Homo sapiens: one gene and its partners. The protein of the gene in region 1 purifies or fractionates together with the protein of each later gene. This does not show direct contact. Each region holds a gene or a part of one and is shown on either strand. Other genes may lie near its edges.

Region 1 (2,813 bases):
TCTTTGTTTTTCTGAATTTTAATGAAGGGCTTTCCAGGCAGGATAACAGAAGCACTCAGCGCTCCCTATGGCCGGGGAGTGGGCCTTAGTTAGCTGCTGCCAGCCTAACCCAAAGCCGCATCCAAGAGAAGCAGGCAGCGAAGGGGCTCTGTCCTCAGATAAGAAGTCTCAGGGAGGAAAAGAGAAAAACAAAAACAAAAGACAGCTCTGTTTAGGAGAAGGGTGGGACTCTGCTCCTGATCTCAGCACATCTTGGAACCAGGCGGTTATAATACTTGCAGCGGTGGAGATGGCTGCAACGTATCTAAAAGGATAAGGAGAAGGGAGGCCCAGGCTCTGTAAGAGAGGGCTTCCATGGAATTCTCAGGGCTGCTGGCTGGCCCCTTCCCATGAGAATCAGAAATGAGGCTCTGGGAACCTGTAGAAGCTTTTGGAGCTCAAGGCATGGACTGCAGGAAGAGGGGAGAAAGGAGAATATTGTCACAACAGCCACCAAACCCTGATGCGAGTGAAGAATGAGTCTCCTTATCCCTCCCGCCGCCTCCTCCCTCCGCTGCAGCTGCCTGGAAGCCTATGATGCAGGTGGCAGTGCTGCGTCACTAAGGTCACAAAGGGCCCAGAGCACCCACGGGAAGGGAGGCCCCGCCCCAGAACCCCAGCAGGCAACTGTTTGAAACCTCCCGAGAAGTGAACAGCTTTCAGTAGGAGTGCCCACTCCTTCTCCGCCTGAATCGAACTCTCCCACATGCTCCGCAACAAGGCCGCGAGTTCTGAGTTCCTATCAGCTGGTTTAAAAGCTGTTCTCCTTCACTTGTGATACATTTTCCAAGAAGAGACTGGAAAGAAATGGAGGAGATGGCACAGAATAAGCAATTTATTGCAATTGAATTATCCAATGTGGTTGACTGAATATAAATATTTTTATTACAAAATATTCCAGGTAAAAATTCGGAGCTGCTTACAAGCTTCTTTAGCTTTAAGCTCATTGCATTTCTTCATGTCTAGAGCATGGGTGACGGGCTCAGGTGTGCCTGGCCTGCCCCGCAGGGTCCTCCTTCTCCGTCTGCAGTGGGTCCCACTCAGTGAGGACCTCTGAGGACACCTCAGTGAACAGATGGTCCCAGTCCCAGCCGACATCATCCTGCCAAGAAGGGTTTCGCTGGGTAAGACAAAGAAAGGCCTTTTCCCTCAACTGTAGCTGACTTCTCCCTCCCATCCAGGCCTCAGGGAGGCACAGGCCAGCCCGGGAGTCGGCTGGTTATGGGAATGCCAGAGCTGAGAGACCGGGGAATTGCTGCCACCACTGTACCTCCCGGACTTCGTGCTCCGGCGCGAGCACTTTGGTGAGGAGTTTCAGGTCGATCTCCCCATCCTGTGAATGCAAACAAAAAAAGGTCAGGCTGAGCACCTTGAGGGCTTTCAGGCAACTCTTTCTCACAAAACCGGGATCAGTTTTTGTGTGTCAGAACTTCCCAAACTGAGACCTGCAGGAATGCCTTCACAAGAGAGTAAAATCATGAATGAACCACATGCCCACTGAGAAATGAGGGAAGGCTATGCTTCCCACATGCTGGGCGTGCTTTGGGGCAAAGGACCATACCAGGAGGACCGAGTGTGACAGCAGTACAGCCACAGGGACAGAGGGGAGTGGGGTGCCATCAGGTGCCAAGTGGGCAGCCATGGAGGCAGGTGGGAGCCTGGCACTGAGAAACACTGTACTATGTTGGGTCCAGGGTTGCTGTGAGATGAATGATGATAAAACCTGCAGCAGAGGTATGGGTGCCAGGCAGGCAGCCTCAGGGGACTGGTGGAGGCGCTGTATAGCTTGGGAGGAACTGAGAAATCTCTACGGATTGAAGCCCATTGCTTGGAGCCCGCCTCTCTATGCAGAAGCTGTTCCACTCACCAGTGTCTGAATGGCTGAGTACTTCATGAGGTCATTGTCCAGGTCACGGTAGGTCATCACCCGCTTTATCTGGATGCTGAAGGAAAGAGAGAGCGAGAGGCGGGAACCCCAGGCAGGACCTGTTCCAGGAGTGCTGCCGGGCCACCGTCCCCAGAACCTTGTATACAGCAGGGGATGACCAGAATGGGAATAACAAAATGGGAACCCTGGATGGAGCCCAACACCAGAAAGATCCAGATTGACATCAAGGTCCACTATAGATGATATCTGGAGTGTATTAATTCACGTGTTCTTTGCCTCCCCAATCATATCTGATTTAACCTACCTGGGAGGGGCTGCCACCTGCAAAACAAAGTCTTCTTCCTGTACTTCCTCCAGATCCGGAATGATAGGAATATCTGCAAGGAGAGGCAGAGGCAACACTGTCTGCAGAACTCATAGGGATTGTGCCTGCTTCTCCACTTCTTACTCATTCCCCTTCAACACACCAGCCATGGGGCTGTGGGCTGGGGCAGGAAGGACACTCAGATACAAACTAGGGGTAGGATCAAAGGTGGAGTTTCAACGATGTCTGAATCCCAGGCCTCATTCCAGAACCTGCTGAGATAGAACCTCCTGGGTCACGCTCAAGCATCCAGATTTTTTTCCCAGGCGTTCCTTGGTGATTCTGACGCGTGCAACAGGTTAGAAGCCACTGCAGTGGATCTCCAAGGAGAAATGTAAAGAAATAAATGTAACAAAGGGCTTATTAGAGGAAAGAAGAGGAACTGACAAGTGAGCCTGGCATGGTCAGAGACAGAGGAACTGAGAACATGTAGTGTCACAAAGCGGATGCCGCAGTGAGTGCCACTCCTCATGACCCAGATCTCTATGTGCATTAGCCCCGCAGTGCAATCATCAGGGCCCT
Region 2 (3,786 bases), on another chromosome or scaffold:
ATACAGAAAAATAATCAAGAACGATATCCATCAAGTGTAAATATCATTTTAAGAAATAGGATTAATACTTTTTTGCCTTTTTCCTTCTACCTTTTGATATTGTGCTTTAATTTTTCCCCCTTTTTTAATAATGAACACATAATTAGTAAATACAGTGATTTCCATATTGAAGAGGAATAAAAGATGTACCAGTTCCCACTCTTATAATGACATAAAATATTTCCATTTTTTCAACTTCTGAGTCTTACTTCTGTCCTCTGGATAAAACAGGTAAATCTAATCTCTTTTCCATAAATGTTCAAACACAAATATTTAAAAATAATTTGATGTTTACTAAAATTAGAAGATTATGTCCAACTTCTAATGTCTGATTCAACTTGCACTTTCACAAAAAGAATCACATCCAAGACCAAATATGCTTTTTATGGCAAAAATATTTCCAGGAAGGAAGTTCATGGCTTTTTTTTGGGGTTTCAATTTCCCCCCAATTAAAACGTTTCCTTTTAAAACTAAGCCTAAGCCATCTGGAGATCTGTATAATGTGGCATGTAAGAATGACCATCAAGATTTATTATATAACCCTCTTGAGTACACAGATTAGATTTTACTCATCCTTCTAACTTCAGTGCCTGACAAGCTAGAGTTTTAATAAATAAATATTTTTCCTGAGTGAGCAAAGTACAGAAGTGAAACATATCTTGAAAAACTCAGGAAAACACAACACAGTTATAAATGTAAGAAATATTCTCAATTTTATAAATGAGCTATGAATTTAAACAACATTCCTGTAACATCAATATTTCAGAGAGGAATTCAGCTCTCAAAGTACAAAACCTACTTGGTGTGATGATGATGCTTGGTAACTCTACTGCTATAAATTCCACTTTATTCTGTCTGGGGCCAAGGAGATAAAACAGGTGACTTTTTAGGATTTCATCTAACACCAAGGCTCTCCATTTATTGCTCTGTAACTAGGCACAGCTATCAATGGCTAAGGTGTCATTGACCATGAAAATAATTTTATTCCTGGTCTACCATTTCTACCTCAAGAGTTCCATTTGTAGGCTGGGTGCGGTGGCTCATGCCTGTAATCCCAGCACTTTGGGAGGCCAAGGCGGGTGGATCACCTGAGGTCGGGCGTTCTAGATCAGCCTGACCAACATGGAGAAACCCTGTCTCTACTAAAAATACAAAATTAGCCAGGCGTGGTAGTGTACAACTGTAATCCTAGCTACTCGGGAGGCTGAGGCAGGAGAATTGCTTGAACCCAGGAGGTGGCGGTTGTGGTGAGCCAAGAGCACGCCACTGCACTCCAGCCTGGGGAACAAGAGCAAAACTCCATCACAAAAAAAAAAAAAAAAGTTCCATTTGTAATTGTGTCACAGTTTTTGTCCTCAATATAAACCTGGTGTATACCAAGTTTTTCTTGTGGTGACTTTGTTTTGCTTCAAATTTTCTGAGAAATGACTTTACACAATTGCAAACTTTGAAATGACTAGGAGTGAGGGTCAGGTGTGGAGAGGCCATTAGAATTAATAAGACGTCTGTGTAAGATAATATTTTATAAAGGTGTAGACAGAACTTTATTTTAGTACATGTGGTAACAAAGTCTGATAAGGAGTGGTTAAAGCCATGATTTACCTCATTTCACAGATAATCACTGTGGTCAGCACATGGCAGCTCTATGCAAACACACTATTTGAAAGAACACAAAAAAGCTATGATCTTTTAATCTCATTTGTTCTAAGGATTTCAAATCCTGGCAAGTTATTTTTTTCATAGATAGTTAAGAGGTAAATTGTCATTACAAATTGCTCATTAGTGGGTTTCAAAAATGTGCCTGGCACATAGTAGAGGTTCAATAAATATCTAATGAATTAATGAGTAATGAATCACACGACTTTGAGAGTTTTATTCATTGGCCATCAGGGAAAGCAAGCCTAAGGTTTTCAAACAATAATACAGATGCTCAAAATAGTAACTATAGTTGGGACAAATTTTTTGGGATCAAGACAATGATCCAGTGCTTTTATAAGTTGATTGTGGAGTAAGCCATTTAATTGGGAGCCAGAGAAAGGAACTTTCAGAAATTTTCTGTAAGTAATAAAAATTATTAAAAAGCCTCATAAAAGTATTATTTCTGATTTCAGATAGACCCACTCCTCCTCCTCCCGCAAAAGGTGTCAGATAGCTGAACCTCAAGTTCTGCATAAACTTAATTCTTCCTATCACCACCCAAATGGCCTCCAATTATTTGATGGACAGAAAGTCAATATAGGCTAGTTATGTTGAAGAAGGTGGTAATGGTGGCCTCTCTGAGAACCTAGTTCTGGAAGTTAATTTTATAGGACTCATTTGGATCAGTAATACCTAAACCCCAAATTCAATTTTTTAGAATACATTTAAAAAGTACATACTTTGGGTACTAGCTGGATTTGAGCAGTAAGTTTCTATAGTCCGGTATTGATCAGTTTCAAAGGAGATGGGTTGCCTGGGCCTTGAGGACTTCACATTCTTTTGCTAATGTGTTTAAACTAAACTTCTTTCCCATCCAAGAAGTTTAAGGAATTGGCAAAAAGAGAGGAGTTCTGACTTTTAAAAGTCAGAAATGTAGGACTCACAGGTATAGACAGGTATATAGACAGTACATACTTTGGGTACTAGCTGGATTTGAGCAGTAAGTTTTTATAGTCCGGTATTGATCAGTTTCAAAGGAGATGGGTTGCCTGGGCCTTGAGGACCTCCCATTCTTTTGCTAATGTGTTTAAACTAAACTTCTTTCCCATCCAAGAAGTTTAAGGAATTGGCAAAAAGAGAGGAGTTCTGACTTTTAAAAGACAGAAATGTAGGACTCACAGGTATAGACAGGTTCTGACTTTTAAAAGTCAGAAATGTAGGACTCACAGGTATAGATGGAGTTTGACTGAGGAAGGCCTTGGCAAGATCTGTGAACTTATGGTAAGGCCATTGCTTTATTAGAAGTACTAACAATATCATTTATAATACAAAAGACTGGGCTAGCCTCTTGACCACATAAAGTTAACTGACTCCCACACTGGGGTATATATTCCTGTTGACAGGTATGCCATTTATTCCAATGTATGTTACTCTAGACTGGTCAGCACATTGTGGAAATAAAGGAATTTAGCAGACTCTAGAGATCACCTCAAGATTTTTTTTGGAGACAGGCTCTCTGTCACTCAGGCTGGAGTGCAGTGGCATGAACACTGCAGCCTCGACCTCCTGGGCTCATGTAATCCTCCTGCTTCAGTCTCCCGTGTAGATGGGACCACAGGCAGGCACCACTATGTCTGGCTAATTTTCTTTTTTTTTTTTTGGAGAGACACGGTCTCACTTTGTTGCCCAGGCTGGTCTTGAACTCCTGGGCTCAAGTGATCCTCCTGCCTCAGCCTCCCCAAGTGCTGGGATTACAGGCCTGAGCCACTGCACCTGGCCCAAGATTCCATTTTTCAAAAATTAATTAACTTATTGTTCTAGTCTCTTCATTCCTATCTTCTCTTTTGATAATCTAACCTGCACATTATTCTAGATTTTCAAACAGAACTCTAATCACATTATTCTACTCCAAAAAATTTTAACAACCCTCCATTGTCTACCAAAGTAACTACAAATTACAGCCTGGCATTCAATGATTTCCACAAAAATAGCCCCAATCTACCTTTCCTGATTTATTTTCTGGTATTACTCTCACAGACATATACACCCACAAGCTCAGTCCCTCTGCAGGCCCTGGTTATTAGGAAACAGTGGGATAGTACTGGTTGC
Region 3 (3,786 bases), on another chromosome or scaffold:
GCCTGCTGCCGGCACCTTCACAGACCCCACTGGGCTGTTAATTTGACTTCCATGCTCGTGACTCCTGGCTGAACATCTGAACAGAGGCGAGGGCTATTTCTGTTCTCCTCAGTCTCCCCAAGGGCCAGCTCTGAGCCTGGCTCCCAGCCAATACTTCCTTTTTGCTGAAGGATTTTAAGACCTTCCAGAAACTTCTTTTGTTCAATCACTTGTGACAGCAGTTGGTCCTAAGGTCACTTGGGTCCAAGAGTGTAGTTACTTTTGGATATTCCTTGCCCCTGACCCTGGCAATACTGAGAACAGAGATATACCCCCGCCCCATGCCCTGTTTGTAAACTTCATCCTGCTTCCCCACCAGGCACACGCAGCCTTGTGGACCTGGCCCTCAACACATCCCCTGTAAAATCCCATGGGACCCACTCCGCCCTGGGCTGGGTCCTCGCCTCTTTTTTTTTTTTTTTTTTTTGAGATGGGATCTTACTCTCTTGCCCAGGCTGGAGTGCAGTGGCACAAGATCACGGCTCACTGCAACCTCTGCCTCCTGGGTTCAAGCAATTCTTCTGCCTCAGCCACCCAAGCAGCTGGGATTACAGGTGTGTGCCACTACACCCAGCTAATTTTTGTATTTTTAGTAGAGACTGGGTTTCATCATGTTGGCCAGGCTGGTCTCAAACTCCTGACCTTAGGTGATCCTCCCACCTCGGCCTCCCAAAGTGCTGGGATTACAGGCGTAAGCCACTGCACCAGGCCTCTCACCTCTCTTTAGTCACCCCTGAATGTATGAGTGTGAGATCTGGAAAACAGGGAGCGTCCAAAATTGATGTGGCCAACCAACCTGCTCACCCTTAAAGTGTTTATTTAAAGGAGTGAGAAGAGACAAAATGGACCTATTCTCTATTGACACGATCATTTCCCTCCAGGTTCCTATATTATCTAAAAATGTAAGTTGAGGCCGGGCACGGTGGCTCACATCTGTTATCCCAGCACTTTGGGAGTCCGAGCGGGCTGATCACCTGATGTCAGGAGTTTAAGACCAGCCTGGTCAACACAATGAAAGCCCATCTCTACTAAAAATACAAAAAGTAGCTGGGCGTGGTGGCGCACGCCTGTAGTCCCAGCTACTCGGGAGGCTGAGGCAGGAGAATCACTTGAACCTGGGAGACAGAGGTTGCAGTGAGCTGAGATCGCGTCACTGCACCCCAGCCTGGGTGACAGAGTGAGACTCTGCCCCCGCCCCCAAAATAAATAAACAAATAAATAAAAATGTAATTTGAATTTGTCCTTTTCTCAGTATTATGGGCTGAGCTGTGTCCACCACTCCCCTCCACAAAGAAATATTCACATATTGAAATCCTAAACCTCAGAACTTCAGAGTATGAGTATATTTGGGATTTTTTTTTTTTTTAAGAGATGGGGGTGTCGTTCTGTCACCCAGGCTGGAATGCAGTGCCATGATCATAGCTCACTGTAGCCTCAAACTCCCAGGCTCAAGCGATCTGTCTGTCTCAGCTTCTTAAAGTGCTGGGACCACAGGCATTCACCATCATGTCTAGCTAATTTTAGTATTTTTTTGTAGAGATGGGATCTTGCTATGTTGTCCAGGCTGGTCTTAAACTCCTGGCCTCAAGTGATCCTCCTGCCTCAGCCTCCCAAAGGGCTGAGATTACAGGCGTGTGCCACCAAGCCTCGCCTAGAGACAGGGTCTTTATGGGGATGATTCAGTTAAAATGATGTCATTAGGGTGGGCCCCCTTCCATATGACTGCTGTCCTCATAAGAGGAAATTTGGACACAGAGACAGGCACAGAGGGAGGACGATGTGAAGACCCAGGGGAAGACGGCTATGTATGAGCCAACAGAGAGAGGCGTGGAACAGATTCTCACAGCCCTCCGAAGGCACGAACCCTGCCAACACCTTGATCTTGAATGTGATCTTAAACGTCTGGCCTCTAGAACTGCAAGCCAATATACTTCTGTCGTTCTGGCCACCCAGCGTGCGGTTCTGTTACAGCAGCCCTAGCAAACTCAGGCACCCAGCAACAACAGTCATGAAACACCCCTAGCGGGGCTCCTTCTCTTGCACATACAGCCCTGTGCAGCAGGGCAGAGATGGGTTTTAAACAAGTGAGTCAGACAAGGATATCTTATTCATCACTCCGACGAACCCATGGGCTGAACCCTTGAATCACTACTTTATTTATCATCGGGCTCGGGCTCAGAAAGTCTCGCTGAGGAAATGAGTAGAACCCAAACTCGTCAGCTGCATTTCTGAAACATGCCTAATCTCTGAGGCTCTTTCCCAGCCACGATAGAAATTGAAAGGGAACGGGGCTCTGGGCTGCGGCGGTGGGCTGGTGTGGAGACAGAGCCCTTTGTTCTGCCACTCCAGGGACCACGAGGGCAGAAGAGAAGGGCTTGTCTTGCTTTGCCGAGAGGCCGCCTGGGGCCGTCTGAATGGCCGGCCGAGCAGGGGCAGCCTGGCACAGCTGGGCTGGGGATGCCGGGCACACAAAGGGCTGGTGGGTGGGGTGTGGGGGCAGCACCCAGAAGGGACCGTCAGTCCCGTGGCCCCAGAGCGTCTCCTCCAATCAAGGTAAAGCAGCAAAGTCACGGTCAAGGAGGGGGCCAAGCAGGGAAGGGGACAGCAAGATGGACCAAGAACAAAAATTCAGCAGTATGTGCTTGGGAACGGGCGGGCGAAAGGGCCCATGGAAGAGATAATGCAGCTTACAAAAGCGACGTTTATCCGGGGCAACCTCCAAAGTAGCTCTTGGGAGAGAATCTAATACCTCTAATCTCAGAAGAAAAGCAACAGATCATTCTAAGACGAGGACAGTTCCTCCAGAAATCCAGGTCAGTCACAAGACAAAGAAAAGACAAGGGCACCCGCTGTCCACCCTCGGGCACGTTGCCTACCCTCCCACAGTCCGTTCCTAACGGTTCCTCCTTTTTATCAAGACCCGCTCCCTCCTGATTAAGAACTGACTGGATGGCAGGATTCAGTTCCTGGTCTCTGCCCCTGTTCCCACTCTTAGTGGCAGTTCCTCAGGGGCTCCACAAACACCAAGGACCCACCAAGGCAATGATGGGCCCTAGAGGGGAACCAGGTTTTACTAATGAGCATCACATTTCACCTGGCGGGGGAGGTGATTCTGCCCCCAGGGGACACGTGGCCATGGCTGGAGTCATTTTCAGTTGTTACCCCTTGGAGGGGATGGAATACTACTGGCATCTCATGGGTGACAGCCAGGGACACTATTCCACATTCTACAGTGCACAGCCCCAACTGTCAATGGTGATGCGGGTGAGAAACGGCCCTGGAGATTTGGGTTTCCCCAGTTAAAGGTTACTAAGGATCCTGCATGTTTCTAGAAAGCTCAAGGAACCATCTCTGAAGTCATCACCTGCCTGGGCCTGTTTCTGTATCAGGAAGATAAGAACAAGGACCCTCGCACTGCCGGTTGGCAGAATGAGAGAGCTGGGATGCCCTGTACAGGCCGGGCTTCAAAGGTATCTGCTTGTGCAATCCCTTCCACCCGGAGTGGTTTAACACGTGGTATCTTTCCAGGTTTGACCTGGGGCCAGCCACTACTTCCGAGGAAACTTGCTGGAATCCCCCTTGTCCTAAAGCTTGCATTGGTTGTCCCTAATTCTCCCCCCATAATATCTTGTGGCCCCTCTGTCACCGTACTGATGACCTGATCTGAATTCCATTCTTTTTTTTAATTATTATTATTTTTGAGGGCATCTTGCTCTGTCACCCAGACTGGAGTGCAATGGCGCAATC
Region 4 (3,252 bases), on another chromosome or scaffold:
GAATAGACGCTGATCTATATATATTTATAGGTTGCACGGGAAGTTGAGGGGACTTACGGACACAATTTGCATAGTAGAGTAGGAGGTAAAATGGTTTCCTGAGAATGAAGGAGAGGGGCTTGGGTTTGGGGCTTGAGTTGAGTCATGAAGATACAGGCAGGCTATGGAGGGGCCAGGGAGGGAGAAGGACCCAGAGGAGAACCATTCCCCTCGAGGGCAGGAGCACGGTGCCGCCTCCTGCAAAGTAGCGTCTTTCCCACTACTCAGAGCGTCCCAGATTTTGAGTGTGTTTCCTATTCTATGTAGAGATGGATTTCTTCAGGATGGTCTAGGTCTACCAACTGGTAGTTTTACCTGTGAGAAGTTATTCTTTTTATCTATGATAAAAATAGTGGGATCTAAGGACAGAATCCTAGTCTGGGAGCTAAAAGATAGGCTGCACGTATCCCTACTTTCTTAATCTTCTATTTCCCAAATACGTACATATGGAAAAATAAAGATTGAGATAAAATTCTTGTGCTTTATTTCTTTAAAGAATGAAAATGCCCATATTTCTTTCAGTAATAAAAATGGAAATATGCTTATTTGACAGTTTTGTTGTGAACATGACCAAGTTATGAATTTAAAAATTCATTCTTTAGGTTGGCAAATTCTGATAATAACAGTAACTCTTTTCAACAAAAGAATTTTCTAAGCACTGCTGCTGTTACCAGACACTTGAGACTGATCCACTTCAGAGCACAGTGCTTTCCATTAACCATGTAGACATCCACACGCACACATATGTCTCCATACATACATACATACATACTGTAAGATCAAGTAGAATGCTATTTTTACATGTAGTGGTCACATCTTTTATGAACTGTGAATTTGGGTCCTGCAATGGCACTGGTAAGTGACGTATTCAAACCGAGCTTGCTGGACAGAAGATGTCGTTGAGAAACACCTGAATGTCTTTTCTTTGAGGGGAGAGTAATCAGTTACCAAACTCATGCAAAATAAAAGTGGTTCCCTTTGCTCTGGTGGATGTACCTGCTCCGGGCAGCAGGGAGCCTTCTGTGTAGCCTTGGCCACTGACAACATGCTACTGTTATTGTAAATGCAAATACGCTATCTTTCTACAACAGCCATATCCCTTTATTTTTTTTTTTCAAAAGTATCACTAAAGGTGGCTGCAGTTTACATGGTGAATATATAGCAGTCTGTTGAAGGAATCATCTGTTATTAGAATAGCCTGAGTATTACTCCAGCAGAAGATGCTACAACCTCTAAATTCCCTGTGCTAGTTGTAGCCCATGAATTCTTTTATTATTTTATTAATAATAAATATATTTGAAAAATCCTATGCTTCAATAGATTTCTCCGATAAGGACTGAAGCAAGTCCTTATAGACAGCAGAGTTCATGAATCGAGGATATGAGTCTCTGTGCATCAGGGTGTAAATCTGAAGTTGAGCATCATCGAATATGTGTTGGGATGGCTCCACCATGTTTCTGTTGATCACTTCTCTCACCCGGGAGTCTAAGCTCACCTGTCGACAGAAACGAGTAGGAGCTGTATTAGAGACTTCAGTTGTATCTCTATCCCAAACTCCTAGAGCTTGTGGGGATTTTTGTTGTTGTTTTTGTTTTTTGTTTTTGGTTTTTTTGTTGTTTGTTTTGTTTTGAGACAGAGTCTTACTCTGTCACCCAGGCTGGAGTGCAGTGGCGCGATCTCAGCTCAGTGCAACCTCCGCCTCCTGGGTTCAAGCAATTCTCCTACCTCAGCCTCCCGAGTAGCTGGGATTACAGGCACCCACCACCACACCCGGCTAACTTTTTTAGTAGAGACGGGGTTTCTCCGTGTTGGTTGGTTTCGAACTCCTGACCTCAGGTTATCCGCCCGCCTCGGCCTCTCTAGCTGCTGGGATTACAGGCATGAGCCACTGTGCCCGGCCTTGTTGTTTTTTAAATATCCCAAACCAAACAAGATCATCCAAAAAATCCAAACTGCCAAAGAGAAACCAAAAGCATAATCAACGCAGTTCTCAAATGTCAGTGGCATCAGCAGGCTCCAGAGGGCTTGTGAGAGCGGTTCCTGGGCCCCACCCCAGACTCAGTAGGTGTAGGGGCCCCTGATGCTTGTTATTTCCCACAAGTTCTAAGTGATGCTGGCAGGGCTCACACTGCTGCTTTGAAGAAAACAGGCAGCACAGACTGCCCCTTGCTCATTTCCTTGTAACGTGGGGGCTGACACCTGGAGGCCCAGGCTTCCCCTGCTGGCCCACAGTGGCAGGGCTCTGGGGATGAGTGCTGGCCTGCCCGGAGGGTTGGGCACAGGGGTGAAGTGGAAGTTGACTCAAAACCCTGGAAGGTTCCAATCACAGGGCCTGAGGGCAGACAATGCCTGTGTTTAAATTCCAGCCCTGCCTGGGTATGGTGGCTCACGCCTGTAATCCCAGCGCTGTGGAGTTCGAAACCAGCCTGGCCAACATGGCAAAACCCCATCTCTACTAAAAATAAAAAATACTAGCTGGGCATGGTGGCAGGTGCCTGTAATCCCAGCTACTCGGGAGGCCGAGGCAGGAGAATCGCTTGAACCTGGGAAGCAGAGGTTGCAGTGAGCCGAGACCATGCCACTGCACTCCAGCCTGGGCAACAGAGCGAGACTCCATCTCAAAAACAAAACAAAACAAAATCCATCCCTGTCACTGTATAGCTGTGGGGCCTCAGGCAAGGTAAACTCTGTGTCCTAGTGAGCTCTTCCCCTGAAGTGGGGATGATGATGATGGTAATGTCTTAGGTTTTTTGTGATTTAATGACAAAGTGCTTGGATTTCACTAAGCCCATAGGAGATGTTGATTGCTCTGATGTTTGGCTCTTCCTAGACAAGGTGATCTGCCTGCTTCGGCCTCCCATAGTGCTGGGATTACAGGCGTGAGCCACTGTGCCCGGCCTGTTTTTGGTTGTATAATACTTTAAAAGATTGATGAAAAACCTTGCCTTAAAAAAAATCATGACAAAATAAAAATATGTGGAAGCCATAAATTAAAGGACAAAAATTATCTTGCTCCTTATTAATTCAAAATGAAAATAACTTTTTGGACTCAGTATTCAAACATGTCAACTGAATATTACCAATTTAACAACGCAAACTTAAGAAAGCAAAACGTAACGACGCAAAATTAAGTAAGCCAACGACCCCACCACCTGGTCTGCCTACACCAGACATATGGGAGTCATTTGAGACGGTGGGGTTTGCCTCAAATCC

The links. The genes of interacting proteins can lie anywhere in the genome.
Region 2: the proteins of IFT43 (region 1) and SENP8 purify together in Homo sapiens (affinity purification with mass spectrometry; 2 studies listed by BioGRID and IntAct, with this or other methods). This does not show direct contact.
Region 3: the proteins of IFT43 (region 1) and MYO9B purify together in Homo sapiens (affinity purification with mass spectrometry; one large-scale study listed by BioGRID and IntAct). This does not show direct contact.
Region 4: the proteins of IFT43 (region 1) and RGS20 purify together in Homo sapiens (affinity purification with mass spectrometry; one large-scale study listed by BioGRID and IntAct). This does not show direct contact.

The regions. Positions count from the first base shown.
Region 1 is NC_000014.9:76,081,786-76,084,598, reverse strand, and holds the end of IFT43 (intraflagellar transport protein 43 homolog), read right to left. Parts: intron 2,305-2,813; coding exon 2,232-2,304; intron 1,983-2,231; coding exon 1,907-1,982; intron 1,373-1,906; coding exon 1,310-1,372; intron 1,142-1,309; coding exon 1,022-1,141; 3' UTR 857-1,021; downstream 1-856. UniProt on the Homo sapiens protein: As a component of IFT complex A (IFT-A), a complex required for retrograde ciliary transport and entry into cilia of G protein-coupled receptors (GPCRs), it is involved in ciliogenesis.
Region 2 is NC_000015.10:72,121,117-72,124,902, reverse strand, and holds part of SENP8 (sentrin-specific protease 8), read right to left. Parts: intron 1-3,786. UniProt on the Homo sapiens protein: Protease that catalyzes two essential functions in the NEDD8 pathway: processing of full-length NEDD8 to its mature form and deconjugation of NEDD8 from targeted proteins such as cullins or p53.
Region 3 is NC_000019.10:17,078,491-17,082,276, reverse strand, and holds part of MYO9B (unconventional myosin-IXb), read right to left. Parts: intron 1-3,786. UniProt on the Homo sapiens protein: Myosins are actin-based motor molecules with ATPase activity. Unconventional myosins serve in intracellular movements. Binds actin with high affinity both in the absence and presence of ATP and its mechanochemical activity is inhibited by calcium ions.
Region 4 is NC_000008.11:53,956,552-53,959,803, reverse strand, and holds the end of RGS20 (regulator of G-protein signaling 20), read right to left. Parts: intron 1,535-3,252; coding exon 1,346-1,534; 3' UTR 501-1,345; downstream 1-500. UniProt on the Homo sapiens protein: Inhibits signal transduction by increasing the GTPase activity of G protein alpha subunits thereby driving them into their inactive GDP-bound form.